Homo sapiens: one gene and its partners. The protein of the gene in region 1 interacts with the protein of each later gene in a pairwise test. Each region holds a gene or a part of one and is shown on either strand. Other genes may lie near its edges.

Region 1 (6,135 bases):
ACTCTTGGACTCAAGTGATCCTCCTGTCTTCACCTCCCAAAGTGTTGAGATTACAGGTGTGAGCCACTGTGCCTGGCCCCTTCTGTACTTTTTAAAAGGCAAAACAAGTTCGAGAGATGTTTTCAATCCAATAGTCTCAACTAGCTAATTCTCCTGATTTCATTTTCGACAAAAATCTGTACAAACACACCATATGTAGCCAATGGTGGCAATGGGTGTTATCTTCAGGGAATCTTATCAGGAAAAGCCTAGATAAAAATCTCAAGATTTACCACACCCATGACATTTTTACTTAGGGTGGCCTTGAGATGCATCCTTAGAGGTATTTCATATGTATATGCACGGCACAGCAACATTAAAAAGACTTTAGAGGCTGCTTATAATACCCATATTCCATGTGGAGTTGAGATTTGGGCTGTGTCCATAAACATGGAAACATATATTAACAAGACAAACTAGTAAATCTCTGAAAAACAGTCTTCACACCTGGAGAGATCGAAGAGCTTTTTTTAGCCAGCTGTCAAATGGCACTGGTATCTTCAGCGGGGGTTTTAATAAATCCTGAAACTCAATATGGCTTTCTGATTTTAAATCTGTTGCTTCAATTTCTTAATGTTCTTCTGTGAACTTTGAGGAGGGTCATAGTACAGTGTACATTTTTAATCTCTTGAAAAGATATACTTTGTCAGATTCTTCATCTCAATATGCCTGTCTTTCAGCTTAGATGGTAGGTATAAATAGGGGTGAAAGAGCAATTAAGGCTACCAATGAGGGACAATTATTTCAGTGCCTTTGAAGTCAGGTATCTCATATAAACTTGTGTTTCAGGTGAATAAAAGTGCTGAGAAATCCTCTCCTGATTCTGAGTTTAGATCCTGGAGTAAAAATTTGAATCTAATTTTGTCCATGCTAGACTAAGAATATTACCTCAAGGTAATATAGAAGTCAGTGGTTTCAGTGTTTTACTCCTATGTGAATATGAAATATACTGCAGTTTAAAATAATCTGGCACACTGTTAGGCAATATTACTAACTCCTTACTACTTAGAAAAACTAAGTAGGCATTTTCCTTAGACTTTAGCATAAAATATATTTTCTATGTTTTTCATAAAACTGAATGTCCTTACTTTTAATTAACACAAAACTAAAACACATTTTAGTATTTTGCTGTTAACCATTTAATCAACAGCATAAACACTGCTTCAGTTTCTCACAGTCTCTTAATTTCAATATATATCTACATATCTATATCTATATATCTGTCTGTGTGTCTATATTTACGTTAACTATTAAGTTATTTTTATAACTTTGGTTTGGTGAGGTCCTGACCACCTAATAGTGACAGGAGGTAGAAGTAGGGGTAGGTCCTTACAAAATATGTTTAATTCTTGTTCACTTTTGCTAATGAGTCTGAAAACACTTCATTTTGACCACAAGTTTGGAAATGTCAATGACAGTAGAAATTTCTGACCATATCTTAAAACTACATAAAAATTACCAGTGACAAAGAAAAAAGGCTTATATTACATTTAATAGTGTTAATTTTGAAGACAATAGTGTTAATTTCAAACTTCCATAAAGGGTAACCCTACAGTTGAGGTGTTTGATGCAGAAACCAGTACAAATTTCGATTGTTAGGAAACCAAATGTTCTGAACATTATTTTCATTAGAAAAGGGAAGGTAATTTTATAGTTGTTTGAGGTGTTGTAATACATCTACTGATAGGCCCAGCTGTTTAACTAAACTGGCTGTCTGTTCCAAAATCCATGTGGGGCTTGGGTTTTCTGAATGTGCATGCTCCTGTGTTCTACAACATTCTACATATGAACAATCTATCCCACTATGGCTCTTGCTACAGTTTTTGTTAAACTCAGCATTATTTTCACAGAGTCTTTCATCTTTAGCTTCATCAATCTTTTTCTCAGCTGGAACTACATGACAAAGGTCCATATCCTCAATGGAGTCCAATAAATCTACAACATGGGACGGTGGAGTGATTGATTTCAGATGTTTGAGCACATACTCTTCACACTGGCCAACTGCATCCAGAAGATTGTTTATTTTATTGATCAAAGTTGAATTATTATTATGAAGGTGACACCAGGAGAGCAAAGCACTGAACAAAAGTATAAACAAGGGTTAAATAGCAAAATAGGACTTAAAAATATAAGACTATCTTTCAATAACAATTAAACGATTGGACTTAATCATAAAACTGTTTATAATTCATAACCCCTCTTTCATAACTCTATATACGCTTTTCCTGATTTTATATTTTTCTCTTATGACTATGTAATATCTGTTGAAGATGAATACAACTCCGAGAAAGAAAAATTAGTTTCTTCTTTAAGGACATTAAACAGCTTCTTAACTAGCAATTCTCAATCATGGATGCACATTAGAATCACCTGAAGAGCTCTGACCCCTATCAAGGCCCAGATTATACTCCACACCAATTAAATCAGAATCTCAGGGGGTATCTTTTTTTTAAGTTTCAGAGTTAAGGTGCAACCAAAGTTGAAAACCATCGTTCTAAGCACATAGTTGCTTGCCATCAAGAATGAAGGTTAGAGAAAAGAAGTTTTCAAGAGACTTCACTTTCCTGGGCTTATGTCACAGAGTAGAAACTGTTTGCTGAACTACTAACAATTTCCTTGAAAAAGGTAAAAATTCTTCTAGTCCTAACAGATTTAATATTATAGTCATGTCATAAAATAATGATTATTATGAAAAGTATTTAAAAATAGAATCCATTGATATAAAAGATTCAGCAGTAGCTTTCTAAGGTTATGTAACATCAACTTGATGATGTGAATATTCACATTGTTTTCCTACTGTAGCAGACTAAATTCTGGTTCCTAATAGTTGGATTTTCTAAAATCCCAAATACAATAAATTTTTCGGTTTGTTTTGGTAACTTTTATCATCTACTCTTCTTTAAAATTAGCGATTCTTTGAAGCATTTTTTTTTTCTCTACCAAGGACAGTGTAAAGGGTATAAAGCAGGGGTGTCCAATCTTTTGGCTTTCCTGGGCCACATTGGAAGAACTGTCTTGGGCCACACATAAAATACATTAACACTAATGATAGCTGATGAGTTAAAAAAAAAAAAAAAAGAAAAAAGAAAAAATATCATGAAAAAAATTTCATAATGCTCATATTGTTTTAAGAAAGTTTATGAATTTGTGTTGGGCCATATTCAAAGCCGTCCTGGGCCACATGTGATATGCAGGCCACTGGTTGGACAAGCTTGGTATAGAGCATCAAACTGGACAAGGCTGCTAGGCTCCTGGCTCTGTGTATCATTTGACCATTTGGCTCCGATATATGCCATTATTGCAATGGCATCCTGACAAGTATTCAATGTTCAGGACTAAAGTAAATTAAATCAATTTTATCTTAATTACCAACTATTTTCATCATGTACTTCTAGTCTAGAGGTCTGTCATACTGTGTGGAAGTACTACAAGTTTTATTCAAAATCTGAAGACCTTTCAATGAGATAGATAATTGTTCAGGTAGCAGAAGTATACATCTTCTTACCATTTCTTTGCACGAAAAGACAATATGTAGTTCACACATTAAAGTAGATGAGCTGATAAAGATTTTGACTTTTTGAAGGCAATATAATTCTATGATCTGCGACACGCTTTAGTGTATTTAGCACCAGGAAAAGCATTTCAGTTTAAACACTTTATTTATACAGAAACATCCTCCAGTAGTATTGAGGTTAAAATGATTCAGCATTTAGACTTTAAAAATTACCTCAATGTTCCTCGGAGTCGTCCATAGTTTAAAATGACTTCTGCACCTTTCTTATAACCTTGATTGAAGCCCTGTTGAAGAGTAACTGCTTTGCCAGCATCTATTCCATCTCTATAACCTTCCTAAAAATAAGTAATGGAGAAGTGCAGCTGTAACTAAGTATATACATGTAGGCTTTTCTAGAAAAGTACAGAACCAATTTAGAAAGCAGATGAATTAGGCCTTTACTGTGTTACTGACCATAATATGGCATAACAATATAACTAAAGCAGACTATGCTTCTCCTAAGTTTATTATTGGTTTATCATTACTTATCCCACTTTTGAAGTCTAGAGTTACCGGGCAATTTTTAAAACACTGATAGTCACAGTTTTTAAAAAACCTAGTGTTGGGCCGCCACGCTTGCTGTGAGGTGGGCAAGCGGCAGACATGGCACCCTCCAGGAGTCTTGCAGTTCCGCTGGCAGTCCTGGTACTGTTGCTTGGGGGTGCTCCCTGGACCCACAGGCGGCAGAGCAACGTACGCATCATCACAGACAAGAACTGGAGAGAGCTGCTGGAAGGAGGCTGGATGATACAATTTTATGCCCCGTGGTGCCCTGCTTGTCAAAACCATTAACCGGAATGGGAAAGTTTTGCTGAATGGGGAGAAGATCTGAGGTTAATGTTGTGAAAGTAGATGTCACAGAGCAGCCAGGACTGACTGGACAGTTTACAATAACTGTTCTTCCTACTATTTATCATTGTAAAGATGGTGAATTTAGGCATCCTCAGGGTCCAAGGACTCAGAAGGACTTCATAAACTTTATAAGTGATAAAGAGTGGAAGAGTATTGAACCCGTTTCATCATGGTTTGTTTCAGGTTCTGTTCAGATGAGTAGTACGTCAGCACTCTTTCAGCTATCTACGTGGATCAGGACTTGCCATAACTACTTTATTGAAGACATTGGATTGCCAGTGTGGGGATCATATGCTGTTTTTCCTTTAGCAACTCTGCATTCTGGACTGTTACTAGGACTCTGTATGATATTTGTGGCAGGTTGCCTTTGTCCTTCAGAAAGGCACACACCACAGCCATACCCTTCAAAAAAATTATCAGAATCTGCTCAACCTTTGAAAAAACTGGAGGAAGAACAAGAGGCGGATAAAGAAGATGTTTCAGAAGAAGAAGCCAAAAGTAAAGAAGGAACAAAGACTTTCCACAGAATGCCATAACACAACACTCTCTGGGTCCATCACTGGTCACAGATAAATTGTATAGTTATCTTAATATCATGATTTTGATAAAAACAGAAGACTGATTATTTCTTTTGGTTTGAAGTGAACTGTGACTTGCTTGTATATTACAGCATTCAGTCTAGATTGTCATTAAATTGAAGACTCTACATTCAGAACATAAAAGCACTAGGTATGTAAGTTTGAAATATGATTTAAGGACAGTATGGTGGTTTAACTAGTTCTCTAATTTTTGAAAAATCTTGCCAAACAATAAGATTTATGTATATTTGTTTAATAATAACCTGTTTCAAATCTGAGTTTTGAAAATTTACATTTCCCCAGTATTGCATTATTGGGGTACTTAAGATTATTTTAGAGAAAAATATTTCTCATTTGATATAATTTTTCTCAGTTTCATGTGTGTGAAAAAAGGAAAGTATTTCCCATAAATGGGAACTTTGCCCACTGTCTCAAGAAATATATATTTCAGTGACAATTCCGTGGTTTTAGAGATATATTCCAAAATTTCCTCATATTTTTAAGTTATGCAACTAATAAAAACTACCTTACATTAATTAGTTGCAGTTTTCTACACATGGTAATATAGGATAAGCTACTGATTTAGGAAGTTTTAAAGTCCATGGTATTCTCTCGATTCCAATAAAGGTTGATTTTCTCTTGTATTTTTCTTATTTATTACGGGTTACATTTTTTATTTTTCAAATTGGATAATATCCTGGAATTATCTTTTATGATTTAGTAAACAGCATTTTTTGTTGTTGTTTCAAACTGAAGTTTACTGAGAGATCCATCAAATTGAACTGTCTGTTGATAATTTAAAATTTTGGCCATTCATTTCAGATTTTAAATCATTCTTGCTGAACTACTTGAAATTGTCTTTTAAAATTTTTCTTTTTGGATGTGAAGGTGAACATTCCTGATTTTTGTCTGATGTGGAAAAGTCCTGGTATTTTACATTTTGAAAATTCACAGAAGGTTAATATAAAACAAAGTTTGCATTCTACTCAGGAAAAAGCATCTTCTTGTATATGTTTTAAATGTATCTTTGGCATCATATACAGAAAGTTCTTAATTAATTTTACAGTCTGTAATGCTTGATGTTTCAAAATCATTAACTATATATATATATAT
Region 2 (9,157 bases), on another chromosome or scaffold:
CAGACGACACGCTGGGAGCTTCTGACAGGAAGGAAGGAGCAGGCCAGAGCCTTGGGAAACCAACCGCAAGGGATGCAATCCAACCCCAGGAGCTCCCAAACTCAAAGCCACTCTGGACAAAGGCTGATGTCTGGAACTAGCGGGACGGGATGGGCCTGGCAGGGATGGGGAAGACAGCAAGCAGACTTTGTCCGCAAACAGCGGACACCCAGGGCCACAGCCTTGCAGGACTGGGACGGGTAGCGCTCACAGGTGTGAGCAAGGTGGCTCAGGGCTGGTGGGAACAGCAAGCAGTGGCACCGAGGACGCAGGTTCTTCCTAGCTCTTCACTCTGCCAGGCTCAGGGGTGGCTTCAGCTGTAGCCAGCCTGCAAGATGCCTGGAGCAGTTCTAGCTGCCGCATCCCAACAGGATGATGTCCAAAATAGCACCAGCACCTTTTCTTTGGAATGACGTAACCTTTCCCAGAAGCCCCCGGAGGACCTTCTGCCAACTCATCTCCTTAACCCAGCAGACACAGCCATTCTAAGAGTGGGCCACTGTGCTGGGGACTGGTCGGACCCTCTACTAACACCTCATTAGCAGAAGAGGAGACACAGACATGCTCATTCCCAGTGTAAAAGCTGAGGATGGCGTTGCCTGGATACGACGGAAGCACCTGTTACAGTGGGCTCTGTCCATACTGCAATGTTGGCGGTGACCAAGGGCTCCCGGAAACTGGGTCTCGTCCTCTAGAAAGGGGCCAGGCAGGCGTAGGTCAGCAGAGTGTGTGAGAATCTTGAAGATGAGGAGGCAGCCCTGGCTCCCATGTGAGGCAAACCAGAGGAGGAAGTGGCAGTATGCTGCTCAGCCAGCTGTGCCAAAGAGGCAGAGAGGGAGTAGGGAGAGAGAACAGGAGACAGAGACGGGAGAAGAAAAAAGAGGAGAGGAAGGGAGAGAAGGTGGGGGACAGTGGGCATAGAGATGTCTCGGGGAGGGTGGATTAGTAATAGCTGCTGACAGGTGGCTGGGCCAGGTGAGCAGGAGCTGACCAGTCCCCAACACAATGGGAGCACTCTCGCAGTGGCTGTGTCTACGCTAGGTTAAGGAGACAAGCTGGCAGAAATCTAAGGCCCATGTCTTCCTTCATATCCAGATCCTAAATGCCCTGGAGGAAGAAATAAACTGGCTGGATGTTGTGTTATAAATGATGCCGTGTTATAAATGACGTTGTGTTATAAATGGTCCCAAACTTTCACTTTAAAATATGCTATTTACTTTTTTTACAGTTATAAAAATAATACATTATCAAAATAGACAACTTACAAAACACAAAAATCCACCAAGGGAAACACAGCAAAGGCCCCTGATCCCACCATCTAGAAAGAACGAGAGTCTTTCTGGCCCGAAGGCACCAGCTCTGATGAAGGCACAATGAGGAGATGCCAGCACAGACTTCCCCAGACCTGAGGTGACGCTACAAACGAGCGGTGCACAGCCACACACGCAGGTTTAGAGTTCGGGAGGAGGAGACCTAAGTCCTGTCTTCAAAAACAAAAAGCAGGCCGGGAGTGGTGGCTCATGCCTGCAATTCCAGCACTTTGGTAGGTGGACGTGGGTGGATCATTTCAGGCTGGGAGTTCAAGACCAGCCTGGCCAACAAGGCAAAACCCCATCTCTACTAAAAATACAAAAGTTACTTGGGCGTGGTGGGGGGCGCCTATAATCCCAGCTACTAGGGAGGCTGAGGCAGGAGAATCACTTGAATTCAGGAGGCGGAGGTTACAGTGAGCCGAGATCGCGCCAATACACTCCAAACTCGGCGACAGAGTGAGACTCCGTCTTAAAAGAAAAAACAAAACAAAAACAAAGCGAGCCACCGTGGAGATCCACCTGCCGCTGCTCCCGCGGGGGTCACTTCTCTGGCTCCTGCAGCCGGCAGCTTAGGCAGCACAACACAATCCACTAGGACATTCGGGAATGGTTTTAAAACCAAAGTGGATTCATGGCGACCCCTTAATAATCTCCTGGACTGCTTTCGGACATGCTTTCTGGAACAGGAGGGGTGTGGAGAGCCAGCGTGTGGGGACTTCGGTGACCCTGGGGGGGTACACAGGAGGGTGTGTGAACACGTGCCATCACATATGACCACCACTCGCCTCGTGGGGACCCACCGAACCATCCACTCTGCTCATCTGTGCCCACCCCACTGCCTCTGTATGACGCCTCGTAAGGACAGAGACAAAAGAGCTCCTAGGAGAGGGGAGAATGCAGGAGGCTATACGCATGGTTCTCAAAGCTTCTGCAAATATAACGGCGGCCTAACATTTGGTCTTTGGTTCAAAATATTTCCCCCCTTCACCATTTTTTAATGCTGCAAAGCTCATCGCCCCTCTAGGGACAGTGCAAAGGATATGTCTGGGTCCCCTCAGGATCAGGTTGGCCTTTCTTCCTCTCAGCCAGATGCCCAGGTAAACTGGCCACCACAGACTCCCCCGTGCTCCGTGAGGCTTGGCAGGACCTGTGCGGCCTGGGAGGGAGGGCAGGGACTCGCCTGTGCATTCCGGAGGCGGCTGTGCCTGGTGGCAGTGAGGCACAGCCTTAGGGCGGAAGTCCTAGCTCTGCTGCTGGGTGCCCTTAGACCAGGCAATCCCTTCGCGTCTCCCCTCCCTCCTCTGTAAAATGAGAATAACACCCATCTTGTGGGCTCCTGAAGGGATTAAATAACACACGGGAGGCACGTCCCGCACCGCCTGGCACACAATCGGCCTCGACATGCGGCACAGCACCCGTCCAAACCTCCCATGAGCCTCATTCGGGGCCAACCATCTCTCTCATTGCAAATAATAATAATAATAAAAATAACTGCCTTCAGTCCAGGCCTGGTGACTGACCCTATCCAGAGCCAACTCCAACCCAGAACCAGCTAGGCCTGTGCTGCCGGAGAGGCTGTCAAGTCAATGCACGAGGGCTCTGCCAGGGACGGCTTCAGCCCAACAAAGGGCATGTGTGGCGAGGCCCCAAGACGGGCACCAAGGTGACACAGGCAGAAAACCCCAGGGAAGGAAGCCCTCCCACGGCCGAACCGGAACCCTCACCCTCCCAATGAACAACTGCCTTCCCAGCACCGTCTGGCCCTTCACCGCATTTCTAAACACGTCACACACACATCTGTTCCTCGACGTTCGGTCTCTGTTCATCCATCCTCCTCAAAATGAAAGTCCGGAACCTTCTGCACTAATTTTAAAGTCTGGCTGAACATTGAGTAACGAACAAAACTGAAAACACAAAAGAGATGGTATTTTTAATCTTGTGCATTTTTACTGAAAAATGAGAAGATAACTCTATCTCTAGCTATAGCTTTTCCTGTCTATGTGGCCAGCCCATAAATGAGTTCTAACTCCTTTTCTCTGGACTGTCTTCAGTTTTCCTGCACTGCGACTCAAGGATGAGGCGCCTCTACGGACAGTTCCGCGGCGCACGCAGCCCCAGGCCATTGCCGCAGCGGCCCCGGGAGTGCGCTGCCCCGCCTGGGAAAGGCGCAATCAGGTGCTCCTAGCAGGAGGAAACACACAGTGCACGCACCTGTTTAAATTTTCCTCTGATCTTGTCTAAGTCTTCATGGAGTTTATCGTAAGTAGGGTCATCATAAGGGAATTTCTGGATCATTCCAATCAATGATTCTAAGACCTTCATCTTTCTGCTGTAAAGCACAGAAATACAGACTCTCAGTCATGTGCACACAACAGGCTCAACTTACACAACAGCTATGCTGCTGGCTTCCTGAAACCCAGCAGGTGCGCTAAGAATGCCTTCGTTCAAAAGCTGGATGATTATTTTCTCATTACACGAAATCATATTTATTTACCTAGCAACGAGCTTAGGCCCATACCCAGTGCCTCGACAGCAAGTGTGTGCCTAGCTTACAGACACGCCTCCATTCCGACCACGGGGCCAAGGGGCTGAGGCAGCCAGAAGCCCTGCTGACTCTCGAGGTCACACATGCAGAAACAGACAGAACTGGGCAAGAGGGACTGGGGCTGGGCACGAGCAGGCCTGCTCTGGGTCTGGGGATTTTCCAGGATCTGGATTCTTTGTGCTCAAAGCCTTCCAAAGTTCAGCTGCAGGTAAACCAGCAAACCCCTCCCTCCAAAGGCGGAAATCAGTACTGTCCCCTCCCCAGGGAGGAAACAGCTTTGCTGGGGAGGCAAGGAGGTTCTGCAGAAAGGCTGTGCACTCAGGAGACAGCAGCCCTGGGCATGACATCTCCCCAACACCTCTCTACCTGCTTTCAACCCTGCTGGCCTCATCTGTAAAATGGGGGGCATCCCAGCCTCCAGATGGTGAGAAATTAATTTCTGTTTTGTTTTTTTTTTTTTAATGGGGAGAGTAACAGCAACCTCACAGACTTTCAAGAGGATTAAATAACTGACATGGGCCGGGCTCGGTGGCTCACGCCTGTAATCCCAGCACTTTGGGAGGCCGAGGAGGGTGGATCACCTGAGGTCAGGAGTTCGAGACCAGCCTGACCAATATGGTGAAACCCTGTCTCCACTAAAAATACAAAAATTAGATGGGCGTGATAGTGTGTGCCTGTAGTCCCAGCTACTCGGGAGGCTGAGACAGGAGAATTGCTGGAACCTGGGAGGTGGAGGTTGCAGTGAGCTAAGATTGTGCCACTGCACTCCAGCCTAGGGGACAGAGTGAGAATCCGTCTCAAAAAAAAAAAAAAAAAAAATTGACATGAAGCTTGGACTCCAGCACAGAGTAGGTGCTCAATAAATGTTAGTCTCTTGGTCTCTTGGTTTCCTCTGGATCCTAGAGATCAGGGCTCTCACCTGCAGGGGTTTAAAAATAATCCACACATGTGTACATCTCGTGGGGCCAGGTCTTTTCAATGAACCACAGGTGGTCCTGAGAAGCATGCTGCCTCTATGCCGCATTGGACCATGTGAGTGGCCAGAGTAGGCAAGATACTCGATTAACGGGCATTTTAAAGAACTGACAGTTAGGATGAATCAACAGCAATTCAAAGCAACCAAGACCTCCTGTGTACTTGCAAACAGCTGGTGCTCCTGGATACAGAGAAGAGCAAGTTTGCCAGCAGCATCCAGTTTACAAGAGCTAACCATGGCTACCTCTCTGAGAAAATACAAAACTGTGAAAGGTCAAAGCAAGTCAGTTTTAGCAACAAAGCACCTGGTTTCCAGGGAAACCAAAGGGAGATGCCAAAACGTGGGAGGTGGCTGTATGCTAACCCGATGCAGAGGACCACGCACTTTCCACTTGGCAAGCGGTTACTTTTCTGGTCAGCGATGCTGCTCAGACACACCCAGCCGGGCGCACCATCAGAGGCGGCACACGTCAGGCAGGTGTGAGCAGCTCAGGGCTAATGAAAGAAAAGTGATGGTGCCAGAGCCCCCGTGCTCAGCCCCGGTGCGCGCTGGTCTGCAGGAGGGTTTCACCAGACTGCTGAAGCCGGGGACAGAAGTGTCACGCAGTTTACCGGAAAGCTAGTTACTCAACGGAAAGCACCATCTTTTGGCCTGAGATGCCGCTCTCCGTGGTTTCTTTGGTGTTACAATGCCCAGCATTTTGCTGAATGACAATGCGGTGGCAGGTGTTTTTCTCTTAACATCCTTATTTGGAAAAATTTACAGGTAAAACATGCAATATCAGCCCTTCACCATTTAAAAAAAAACAAAAAACAAAAAAAAAAACCTGACATGTAAGATCTAAACATCCATGAACCACTGCTCTACAATAAAGCCTTAGGTTCCAAAGAGACCTCTGGGTACTACTGGATGGGATGAGGGCGGCTGCGAGGGGGGTCTGGCAGGGCTTCCACCAGCCCCTCGTCAACCAAAGCGGTTCTTCTCTGTTAGCTAGACTGAGTGTGCTGCTTTCAGACGTCAGCAAACCCCTGCTCTGGGGTAAGGGCTGGCAACCTCCTGGGATGGGACCACTGGCACACAGCGGAGCACTTCTCCAGGAGCCGGCAGATTCTGCCGCTGTGGGAGAAGGGAGACAGGCGGAGAACTCCAAGAACACACATCCTTTTGTGGCCTGGAGTTGAGAGCCAGGCTCAGCTTTGACTGCCACCTAGTGGTAGCACAGGCTGCCAACAGCGATTCCCCTGGGATCCCCAGCTGCCGGCCGCTGCCTGAGAACCAGGAGGAAAATGTCCTCAAGTGCCCCTCTGCTAACCCAGAATCCCATCGACTCCCAACTGCTGGTACAAACGGAGCAGAAAGAACTACCCGTATCAGTTGCAAGCATCCTCATTCTTAAACATTTGAATATTCAAGATATTCAAGGTATTTCTAGAAATTCAAGATATTTCAAATAAAAGCACAAGTCACGTAGTCAGGGAGAGAGTTACCCACTCTCCTTGTGCCCCTCCCACGCTAGGCAAGGCCACCAGGTGTCAGAATGACGCAGAGCACCAGCTCAGGTCCCGCGCTTGCTGCTGCCCATGAACAGCAGAGTATCCAAACCATCTCAAGGGTTCATTTCCAGCTTCAGAATGAAGATAGATAAAGCAGGGTCACATGGGGCTTCAGTAAGTACAATGCAGGAAGAAGAGTTTTTGTTTGTTTGTTTGTTTTTGAGAAGGAGTTTTGCTCTGTCGCCCAGGCTGGAGCGCAGTGGCATTATCTCAGCTCACTGCAACCTCTGCCTCCTGGGTTCAGGCAATTCTTCAACCTCAGCCTCCCGAGTAGCTGGCACTACAGACACATGGCACCACGCCCGGCTAATTTTTGTATTTTTAGTAGAGACAGGGTTTCACCATATTGGCCAGGCTGGTCTCGAACTCTTGATCTCGTGATCTGCCCGCCTCGGCCTCCCAAAGTGCTGGGATTATAGGAGTGAGCCACTGCGCCCGGCCGAGAAGAGTTTTTAAAGGCTAAAAACAATTCAAATGACAGCTAACACTTACTGAGTGTTGACAAGTTCCAGAAAGGAGTTAAACACATTTAAAGGCATTTTCTTGTTAACAGACTTAGTTGGCTACATTAAAAAACTGATGACACTGGTGTCCTCATCTCTGAGCCCAAGTGATACAAAACTGTTATAATTTGTTTATTAGAAGCTCAGGGGAAAGGTGAATGAGAAAATACAATCAATGTCAACATTATTTTATTGGTAGGGTATCTAAAAGCCACATGGTGCACTAATGACTCCAGGTAAAAGGCAGGAGCATAGAACTCTTGAGAAGCAACAACAGCCAGTGTTCACCAAACACCTAAAATGTGCCTGGCACTTTCTATTTAGTATTTCCGTTAAATCTCCTAACAACACTCAAGCTTGACACTGATAATTTTCTCCATTTTACAGATGAGGAACAGACAGATTGATTACTCAAGGGCATGCTGGTAACCCATGGAACTAGAACTCCTGGTTCCTACGCTGAGAAAGAAAGACATCTCCACCTTTACCTGTCCTTCTCAGTGGTGCAACTGTGCAGTAGACATTTCCATGCAAAAGCAAAACCTTGGTAGCACCCGATCTGTGAATGTGAAAAATATTTAAGAGTGAAATTAATAAGCAACTAGCTACACTTTCATTACCAAGATCTCAAAACAAAAGGTGGGGGCAGAAGGCAGCGGTGCTTCTCACACTATTGTTCTGGAAGCACCTGTTGAGCATTAGGCAATGGAAATTAGGAAATTAGGTCATCGGTGGGGCAGCCAGCCTCCCAGATGCCCCAGTCCTCATCTCCTGGTACCCATGCCCTGTGCAGGTCCCTCGACACTCCACCAGGGTGGCTTTCGTAACCAACAGAATGTGGAGGAACAGCACAAAGCTCCTGAGTCTAGGGATAAAAGCCAGTGTCACTTGCCTCACCAGCTCTCTTGGACCACTCGCTCTTGAATGTCACGAGGACACACAAGCAGCCCCATGGAGACGTCCATGCCCACAGTCAGGTGACAGCACCACCTTGGAGGCAGATCCTCCAAGCCCAGTCAAGCCTTCAGGTGACACGGCTCTGGCTGACACCCTGAGCCAGGACCACCCAGCAAAGCTGCTCCTGAGTTCCCAACCCTCAGAAACATGTGAGATCATCCATATTTGCTGTGTTAAGCCCATGAATTTTGTGGTGATCTGTTTCACAGCATCGAACATCCAATATAGTCATAACTGCCTCAACTCAGACTTTGCCACTAAGGGCCACTTATCTGTAAGGGCCAATCTAGGACAAAGGGCAAGAAGAGAAAAAAAAAAATCATAAAGTTAATGAAATTTCAACGTAAACATAAATGGAATATGTTCACATGACAGAGGGCACCCATTCTTTGGCTTAGTACATGAGCCAGCACCATGACACTCCCAAGTAAACTAAGGAGACCAGGGACTTGTTTTCTTTTATCCAGCATGCATAATTTAATTGTATCTACCTACAGCAAAATGCACTCTTGGTTCTGTACTAAGAATATTTCTCCAGCAACAGTCCATCTAGTCCATTAACTCCCATGCAAAGGCACTGTGATTTTTTTTGTTTATTTTTTGGAGATGGAGTTTCATCCTGTCGCCCAGGCTGCAGTGCAATGGCACGGTCCCGGCTTACCACAACCTCTGCCTCCCAGGTTCAAGCGAGTCTCATACCTCAGCCTCCCAAGTGGCTGGGATTACAGGCATGCACCACCATGCCCAGCTAATTCAGTATTTTTAGTAGAGACAGGGTTTCACCATGTTGGTCAGGCTGGTCTCCAACTCCTGACCTCAAGGCGATCCACCCACCTCAGACTCCCAAAGTGCTGGGATTACAGGTGTGAGTCACCGCGCCCATCCGGCACTGTGATTTTAAAAGGCCTGACAATTCTTACTCCATCACACTGAATATCGAAATAAATTATAAATTGTAAATGAAGAGGCTTCATCTCCAGATGGGGGTTCCCACTTACCTCAGACCCGATTTTGGCTCCATGCAGCGTGCCATGCTGCCTTCCCTCCATCACACCCAAACTACTGCCTTCTTCATAGCCTTCCCGATACCCTTCCCCATGAAACCTGTGAAGAAGAAGCATGCTTCATCAAATCAACAGGAGAAAGAATACTTTCTCCAGAAAAACTTCTCTCTCTTGTATTACCCGGACCCAGTAAGACAAACCAGAGTAAAGGAGGAAAAGCCTAAAATTCAAGTCAGAAGACACAGATTCCAGTCCCAGATCTACCAC
Region 3 (8,710 bases), on another chromosome or scaffold:
TCACATGGGAAACTTGTTTATACTGGCAGATGCCCTTGTGGCTCTTGTCTGATCCATGTCCAGTTTATGCCTGCCTGACCATCACTTTGGCACTGGGAGTTCAACCTTGTGCTCTCCCTGGTGTCCCCTGGTTCTTCAGATGGAAAGCACAAATTCAGTACATCACCACAATAGGAAATAAGTTCAAAGATTTTCACTTACAGATCCTGGGCAAGGAGGGCATAATGAGTCAGGAGGGCAGTCCTCTGTCCCCAGGTCATATGAGGCAGAAAGGAAGAGCCAGAGAGAAAGTGTGTCTAGCAGCATGTCTAAGGGAATGGAGTGTGGGCCACTTTAATAGGCAAATGTCTAAATGGTCCATTTAAAGAGAGGCAGGAAAGCAGGGAGTGCAGTCCGCAAGGCAGGAGAGATCCCTCTAAGTTCTTGTCACTGGCCACCAGCTTGAGCCATCTGGGTGTAATGTAGAACTGGAAATTGTGCCAAAGATGACTGAGCCCTGCTTTGGTATGAGAAAGTTAAACTTGTATTCAAAATGGATGCTGAGCAACATAAAATTGTAAGAATTCTCTATATATCTCCGACATCAATCCAGCACCAAAAGTTTTATTCTAATATTCCCCCTTTCTGGGAAAGGCAAAATAATAGAAACAAAATCCAGATCAGTGGTTGCTCAGGGCTGTATGAAGGAATTTTTGGCATGATAGGGCTGTTCTGCATGGTACAGTAGTGATGGGTATACAATGCTATGCATATGTCAACACCTACACAATTCTACAAAGAGTGAATTTACTGTATGCAAATAGGAAAAACATCCAGGATGTTGGAAGAATCCAACATGGGATACAGATTGTGACAAATGAATCTAAACTGTATTAAAATTATTCACTTGGTAAACTATCACTCCTGCAATCCTAGCGACTCAGGAGGCTGAGATGGGAAGGTGGTTTGAGGCCAGGGTTCCAGTGTAGCCTGGGCAACACAGTGAGATCCTATCTCCAAACAAAAAAAAAAAAAAAAAAAAAAAAAGAAAAGAAAAAGAAAAAAAGCTAGGCATTGCCATGCATGCCTTTAGTCCCAGATACTGGGGAGACTGAGGTAGGAGGATCTCTTGAGCCCAGGAGTTCGAGGCTGCAGTGAGCTATGAGTATGCCACTGCACTCCAGCCTGGGTGATAAAGTGAGACCCCCAACTCTTAAAAAACAAAACAAAAACCCACCACAGTGAAGGGGGTAGAGAAGAAGGAACTGGCTTTAGTGACTTTGGAAAACAGTGTGTTGACTGAATAAGTAAGATTGGGGATGAAAAGAATGATAAAAATGCTGTACTTTAGTTAGAAATCTGTTTCTCCTAGGTATGTGGATTAGCAATTCTGAAGCAAATTTTCATGTATACTAGAGTTAAATTAGTGCCTGTATTGTGGCTAATGAGTGTCAGGTTTCTCAATGTCAAAGAAAATACAAACAAACATTTTGGGAATTTTTATATTAAAAATTTACAGTTATAAAAACCAAATCACATTTAGTTATATATTTAATGAATCATTTTTATTGCAAAGGGTAAATTACATGAAATTGACAAAATTTAGTCCATGTAATATCTATCAAAATACATACATGTAAGTGTGTGTATATTTATATATGTATACAGTACAGTTTTCACAAAAAGCTTCAACATTCCTAAGAAACACAGACATAGTCATTCTGGTACAATATGGATTTAAAATAAGTTCATGGTAATCCTTCCTGATGCCAATTTTAAAATGAAGACCGTCTAAATTTTTCTGACCAGTTATTAGTTGCCCTGCCTCTCGGAAATGTGTTTAAACTTTTCTTTCAATTATTTGATACCTTTTGCCCAAGAGATTACTATCTCTCTCTTTTTTTTTTTTCTTTTAAGACAGAGTGTTGCTCTGTCACTCAGGTTGGAGTGCAGTGGCACAATTCCTGATCACTGCAACCTCTGCCTCCCAGGCTCAAACGATCCTCCCACCTCAGCCTCCCCAGTAGCTGGGACCACAGGCACATACCACCAAGCTTGGCTGTTTTCTTTTCTTTTTGTATTTTTAGTAGAGTTGGGCTCTTGCCATATTACCCAGGCTGGTCTTGAATTCCTGAGCTCAAATGATCCACCTGCCTCGGCCTCCCAAAGTTCTGGGATTACAGGTATGAGCCAGCATGTCCGGCCTGAGATTACTCTCTCTTATAAGAAGTTTCATAAGTTTTTCCACTGAGGAAAGTGATGCTTGTTTGATTTCCTCTAAATTTACTTCTTCACATTCGAAAGGAGACTCTTTTCTTCCTTAGAACTTGAAGATTCAGTGTGAAAGGGCATTTTTCTTTCTTATATTATTAAAAAAGTTACTTTTTAAAAAGTAACATTTTTATTTTTATTTTATTTATTCATTTTTGTGAGACGGAGTCTTGCTCTGTTGCCAGGCTGGTGCAGTGGTGCAATCTCAGCTCACTGCAACCTCTACCTCCTGGGTTCAAACGATTCTCCTGCCTCAGCCTCCTAGTAGCTGGGAGTAGAGGTGCGTGCCACCATGCCCAGCTATTTTTGTATTTTTAGTAGAGACAGGGTTTCACCATGTTGGCCAGGATGGTCTTGATCTCTTGACCTCATGATCTGCCTGCCTTGGCCTCCCAAAGTGCTGAGATTACAGGCATAAGCTACCGTGCACAGCCAACATTTTTATATTTTATATAGAGATGGGGTCTTGCTACATTGCCCAGGCTGGTCTCAAACTCCTGGGCTCAAGCAGTCCTCCTGCCTTGGCCTCCAAAGTGCTAGAATTACATGCATGAGCCACTGTGTCTGGCCAAAAATGTTAGTTTTCACGTTTATAGCATGCAAAGTGTTATTCTCTTCCACTTTAATTCACAAAGGCTCTTTATGTCTTCCCACTTTTATCACTCTTAATGAACCCACCCTGTATCTACTAAAATTCTGGAGGAGTCATGGGCAGAATTACAGAAGAATTCTGGTCATATGACAGTTTCATAAAAGGACAATATCATAATGTGCAAGTTCTAGTAAAATGCAAATCTTATCTTGTTTCACCAGCTTACTATTTAGGCTTTTTTTTTTTTTTTTTTTGGCCTATTCTGACTTTGGATCTTAACTATTTTCAACTATCTTTTTGCTTGTAGAGGCATTCTTTGGTTCCTAAGAGGTATTAAAGTGAGGGATTACTAACGGTGAAGCTACTTTGGCATGCAGGATGCTGCTGTGTACATATATACTAGTGTATATGAATATAAACCCTTGTCTTTTTTTTTTTTAATAAAAGTGAGTTTTCATCTGAGGTGCTTGGAATGATTCACAAACAACTTGGCACACTCTTCTGGCCTGTTTACCCCCATTGAAATGTTATTTTATAAATTACATCTTAATTCACAGAATTTTTTCTTGATAGTATAAGAAATTCTCAAATATTTTCTATAGGGGCACACAACTTTCTATTTAAATGTCTAAGAACTAAATTTTCTGTCGCCTTCCGAAATCCTATTCTTAAAATTAAAAATATAGGAAAGCACAAATGTTTCCTTCATTAGGTCAATTTTTTCACTAATTTCTTCATTTAAAAAGTGAATTCTTTTCCTGTTTTTCCTCATTTCATCCAATAGTTTCCATTTCTACTAACATGGTGTGGCAGAAAGAACATGGGTTTTGGAACTAGATAAACCTGAGTTTGAATTTTGATTCTGTCACTGTAGGTAGCTATGTGGCCTTGGCTCAGTTTCTCATCTCTAAAGTGGAGACAAAAATACCCATGGTTTGGGTGGCTGGTCAGATTAAATAAAAAATATATGCACAAAATTTGGTACATGGTAGGCATTCAACATGTTAATGCATTTCTCACTACATCAAGTGTTTCAAAACTAATTCTATGGAGGAACCAAAATTTAGTAGTGTTATTAATAAAAGGCCACATGTTTTCTTAAAACTCTTAATTTCTAATTTTGATTCATCACTTTTTTTTTTTTTTTTTTGAGGCTGGGTCTCACACTGTCACCCAGGCTGGTGTGCAGTGGCGAAACACAGCTCACTGCAGCCTCAACCTCCCAGGTTGAAGTAATCCTCCTGGGCTCAAGTAATCCTCCCGCCTCAGCACCCCAAGTAGCTGGGACTACAGGTGCATGCCACCATGCCTGGTTAATTTTTGTATTTTTTGTAGAGACAGGGTTGCCCAGGCTGGTCACGAACTCCTGAGCTCAAGCCATCTGTCTACCTCGGCCTGCAAAGTGCTGGGATTACAGGCATAAGCCAACGGCCCTGGCTTGATTCATGGCATTTTAATGAAAAATTTCATGTTTTTTCGGTATGCCAAAGTGCCATGTATGAAATATGAAATTTGGAAGAATCGATGTAATTGTACAGCCATAGGAAGGCCTCCCTTCACCATACAAAAAGGTAACCTTTGCTCTATTGCTGCCACCAAGGGCCATTTTGTGGGATGTGGTAACTTTAAGAATATTTATTACAATTAAAAAAATCAAAATATGCCATACTTCATAAACATCTTATCAGTAAGTTAGAGGTTTAATAAAGAGGTTCAATAAACAGAAATTTTATTTAACATATATTTCAACATGAAATCTATAAATTGCAAAGGAGCACTGTGAATTCTTTGGAAAAACGTTTGTTTGCTCTACTCACAAGCTTCATCCTTGTGGCATGTATTCAGAGCTAGGTTATGTCCTGCTTTTTGTTTAGGCAGGCATAATGTCTTTCATGGTATTCTCAGAACTCTGTTAAACTTCACTGCTTTGTTAAATGTCACTGCTCTGTTAAACTTCACTGCTCACAAAATCTGAGTTAGGACAAATGTTCATGGGGGTTGTTGCTCACATGTTTTCCTATGGCTGGTTTTCACAAAACGGTATGCATCTAGTCCTAGGGAAGTACATGAAAGGTCTTCTTAGACGGATTCTGCTGGAATTATCTCTTGTCTCTGCAGCTGCTGGTTCTATCTTCTCTCTTCTCCTGGAAATCAGAAAGAAGAAACAAGCATGCAAACACATGCCAAAACACTGCAGCTACAAACTAGGCTGACATGTCAAATAGTGGCATATTCAACACATCCTGACATCATTCTCCCAGGTAATGAGTTTAAGATTGCAGAGGACTTTATAGATTATTTACCTCAACCCTTACATTATGTTCATCAGTACCTTTCTACTCTAAAAGGTAAAATTCCCACTTTGAAAATGTGCAGTTTTACAATATCATTAAAAATTCAGGTTTCAGGCTGGGCACAGTGGCTAACGCCTGTAATCCCAGCACTTTGGGAGGCCGAGGCAGGCGGATCACGAAGTCGGGAGTTCGAGACCTGCCTGGCCAACATGGTAAAACCCTGTCTCTACTGAAAATACAAAAATTAGCTGTGTGTGCTGGCACGTGCCTGTAATCCCAGCTGCTCGGGAGGCTGAGGCAGGAGAATCCCTTGAACCTGGGAGGCGGAGGTTGCAGTAAGCTGAGATTGCTCCACTGTACTCCAGCCTGGGTGACAGAGCAAGACTCCGTCTCAAAAATAAATAAATAAATAAAAATTCAGGGTTCAAAGTGAAATGATAAATTCTAATTTATTTGAACCTGCATTTAAAGCTCTTTATTTAAAATTTTCTTCTAGATAAATTCTGGGTACCAATAAAACTCTATAGTGTTGTATAGCAGAAATGGGAGTTCTTGGGGGTGAGCTTGTGAAAACAATGTCCGACGGAACTAATGATGAAAGGGCCTGGAACCCACATAGTTAGGCACGCCAGAAGGAAACCTATGGGAACATTAGCCCCTGCTTCCCTCTCCAGTTTTTTCTCTCCCTCTTCATCCTGAATCTGTTTCATTTAGTCCTTGGAAGTTCCTTTCTCCTTTTCAGTCTCTGAAATAATATTCATTTGGCTAACTCTGAAGCTTTTTTCAGAACTCAGAATGTTGTTCATTTCCCATATGTTCATATGCCTGTGAAGTTAGTGCTTTTTACACTGATTTATAAGAGACCGCTTATTTTTATGTTTCCTCTATCAGACCGTATCCATCAGGAAAACAAAGCCATTATAAGAATTATGGGACTAAGGTACTTATCACAGGAATTACATTTTACCAAATATAGGAGCTGGGAAAATGAGGGTCTGGAAAAGGAAAATTGAAGGATCAGAGTATATGGGGCAAGGGATAAAAATGTAGCCTGCTCTACTGTGGCGTGCCAGTCAGGATCAGAGAAAGGATGACTGAGCAGGCTGTTTGAAGCACTGGTGTGGGTAAACAAATTGAAGCTTGCAGGGAAATCTGATAATCCAAGCATGCCCAAGCTGCTGAAGTGGAACTATGAAGGGGGAGCTTGCTGGGGAAATCTATGGAAACTGCCGAATGTGGAACGACTCTGCTTTTCTGAAGCTACTGTCTTCAGGTCTGCAGCCCAGTGCCTGGTGGTCGGCCTAGGGCTGCTGTTGGTCAGCAGGGCCTGTAGTCATGAAGATGCTATAGAGTGGAGAGGAGTGAGCTGCTGGGCACCTTTGTATTTGTCCATCACTGACTAACCATGATGATCTTCTAACAATAATGGCTTCTGACCACTTCTGCCTTCTTCTTTTGTGGCCAAAATTTCTAACTGAGAAATGTGAATCCTAGCCTTAGCAAAGTTGGCTATTTTGTGCTCATGATGTATTTTTAGAATGTAGCAAAGTTTCTGGCACATAGACGGTACTTAATATTTAATAAACGGAAGAAGAAATGGAAGACCACTTATACAATGCAAATGAGAAGCAAAGCAAAATTTGTCAGAGACATGAAAGTATTTCATAAATCTCTTTCTTGACTATAATAGTTAATTCAACATTTATGTAGTACTGCTGTTTTATTGATAGATTGGTGACTAAGAGAAGTCCAGCAAAAGAAGAATTTGTCAGTGTATGTCCAGTACTGTCAATGGGAGAGGGTACTTGGACTGACTACTTCACTGGCTTTCCTCATCAGTGCAGGCTACACTTTGATCCCCTTCCCCACGAACTCCCAGATGGACAAAGGACAGGGGACCAGGAAGGGTAGGTGACTTTCTTGTTTGTCATCACTGTTTCTAGACCAGTGTTTCTCATCCTTCGCTTCCCATTTGAATTCTTCAGAGAGCTTAAAAATATCTAAATGCCCAAGCTGCCCTCAGGTATGACCCAGGCATCAGTATTTTTTAAAGCTCTCCATGTGATTCCAATGTGTATCCATGTTCATGTTTCTATGTGAAGTTAGTGCTTCACATAGAACTAACTTGTGTTTCAAAGTTAGTTAGCAGCATTGGTATTACCTAGTCTCATCCCAGACCTACTACATTAGAAAATGTATTTACCAAGATCTGTAGGTGGTACAAAGTACACTAAAGTTTGAAAAGTGCTGTTCCAGATCATTTTTACCAGAACCCAGTGCCAAGGCAAAAAATAAAAAAAAAGATTCAGTAATGTCTAGTTTTAACACTGCATGTTCTCACTCGTAAGTGGGAGTTGAACAATGAGAACACATGGACACAGGGAGGGGAACATCACACGCCAGGGCCTGTCGGGGGTGGAGGGCTAGGGGAGAGATAGCATTAGGGGAAATACCTAATGTAGATGATGGGTTGATGGGTGCAGCAAACCACCACGGGACATGTATACCTATGTAACAAACCTGCATGTTCTGCACATGTATCCCAGAACTTAAAGTATAATTAAAAAAAAAAAAAACTCTCAAGACACAGAAAAGATATGGATACTTACCGATGTACACTTCTTAGCAGTTTTTCAATTAGGATACACATCTAAAGTTATTTGAAGATTGGTACACTAATACCTGTTTCTGCTCCCATGACTGATGAAAATACTCTGAATATAAAAATGTTTATATTCTGTAGATAGCCCAGAAATAATGTTGTACTCCTATAACCATCTGATCTTCAACAAGGTTGACAGAAACAAGCAATGGGGAACGGATTCCCCATTCAATTAATTGTGCTGGGATAACTGGATAGCCATGTGCAGAAGATTGAAGCTGGACCCCTTCCTTATACCATACACAAAAACATCAACTCAAGATGGATTAAAGACTTAAATGAAACCTAAAACTATAAAAACCCTGGAGGATAACCTAGGAAACACCATCCTGGACATAGGCCTTGGTAAAGATTTCATGATGAAGACATCAAAAGCAATTGCAACAAAAGCAAACATTGACAAATGGAACCTAGCTAAACTAAAGAGCTTCTGCACAGCAAAGTAAACTATCAACAGAGTAGACAGACAACCTACAGAATGGGAGACAATATTTGCAAACTATGCATCTGACAAAGTTCTAACATCCAGAATCTTTTTAAAAAATCTTTTTGAGATAGAGTTTCACTCTTGTTGCCCAGGCTGGAGTGCAATGGTGCAATCTTGGCTCACTGCAACCTTTGCCTCTCAGTTTCAAGCGATTCTCCTGCCTCAGCCTCCTGAGTAGTTGGGACTACAGGTGCACACCACCACGCCTGGCTAGTTTTTTGTATTTTTAGTAGAGACAGGGTTTCACCATGTTGGCCAGGCTGGTCTCGAACTACTGACCTCAGGTGACCAGCCAGCCTCGGCCTCCCAAAGTCCTGGGATTACAGGCATGAGCCACCATGCCTGGCCTAATATCAAGAATCTATAAGGAACCTAAAATGAATTAACAAGCAAGAAACAACCCCATTAAAAAGTGGGCAAAGAAC

Evidence for each region. Proteins that work in one complex are often made in the same cells at the same time.
Region 2: the proteins of YAE1 (region 1) and LTO1 interact in binary tests that used the Homo sapiens proteins (3 or more experiments, as listed by UniProt).
Region 3: the proteins of YAE1 (region 1) and CEP126 interact in a two-hybrid assay, tested with the Homo sapiens proteins (2 studies listed by BioGRID and IntAct).

What each region holds. Positions count from the first base shown.
Region 1 is NC_000007.14:39,568,259-39,574,393, reverse strand, and holds the end of YAE1 (protein YAE1 homolog), read right to left. Parts: intron 3,889-6,135; coding exon 3,767-3,888; intron 2,118-3,766; coding exon 1,688-2,117; 3' UTR 1,513-1,687; downstream 1-1,512. UniProt on the Homo sapiens protein: The complex LTO1:YAE1 functions as a target specific adapter that probably recruits apo-ABCE1 to the cytosolic iron-sulfur protein assembly (CIA) complex machinery. May be required for biogenesis of the large ribosomal subunit and initiation of translation.
Region 2 is NC_000011.10:69,664,332-69,673,488, forward strand, and holds the end of LTO1 (protein LTO1 homolog), read right to left. Parts: intron 8,991-9,157; coding exon 8,885-8,990; intron 7,489-8,884; coding exon 7,418-7,488; intron 3,682-7,417; coding exon 3,564-3,681; intron 3,257-3,563; coding exon 3,188-3,256; 3' UTR 1,232-3,187; downstream 1-1,231. UniProt on the Homo sapiens protein: The complex LTO1:YAE1 functions as a target specific adapter that probably recruits apo-ABCE1 to the cytosolic iron-sulfur protein assembly (CIA) complex machinery. May be required for biogenesis of the large ribosomal subunit and initiation of translation.
Region 3 is NC_000011.10:101,993,875-102,002,584, reverse strand, and holds the end of CEP126 (centrosomal protein of 126 kDa), read right to left. Parts: intron 4,987-8,710; coding exon 4,942-4,986; 3' UTR 1,523-4,941; downstream 1-1,522. UniProt on the Homo sapiens protein: Participates in cytokinesis. Necessary for microtubules and mitotic spindle organization. Involved in primary cilium formation.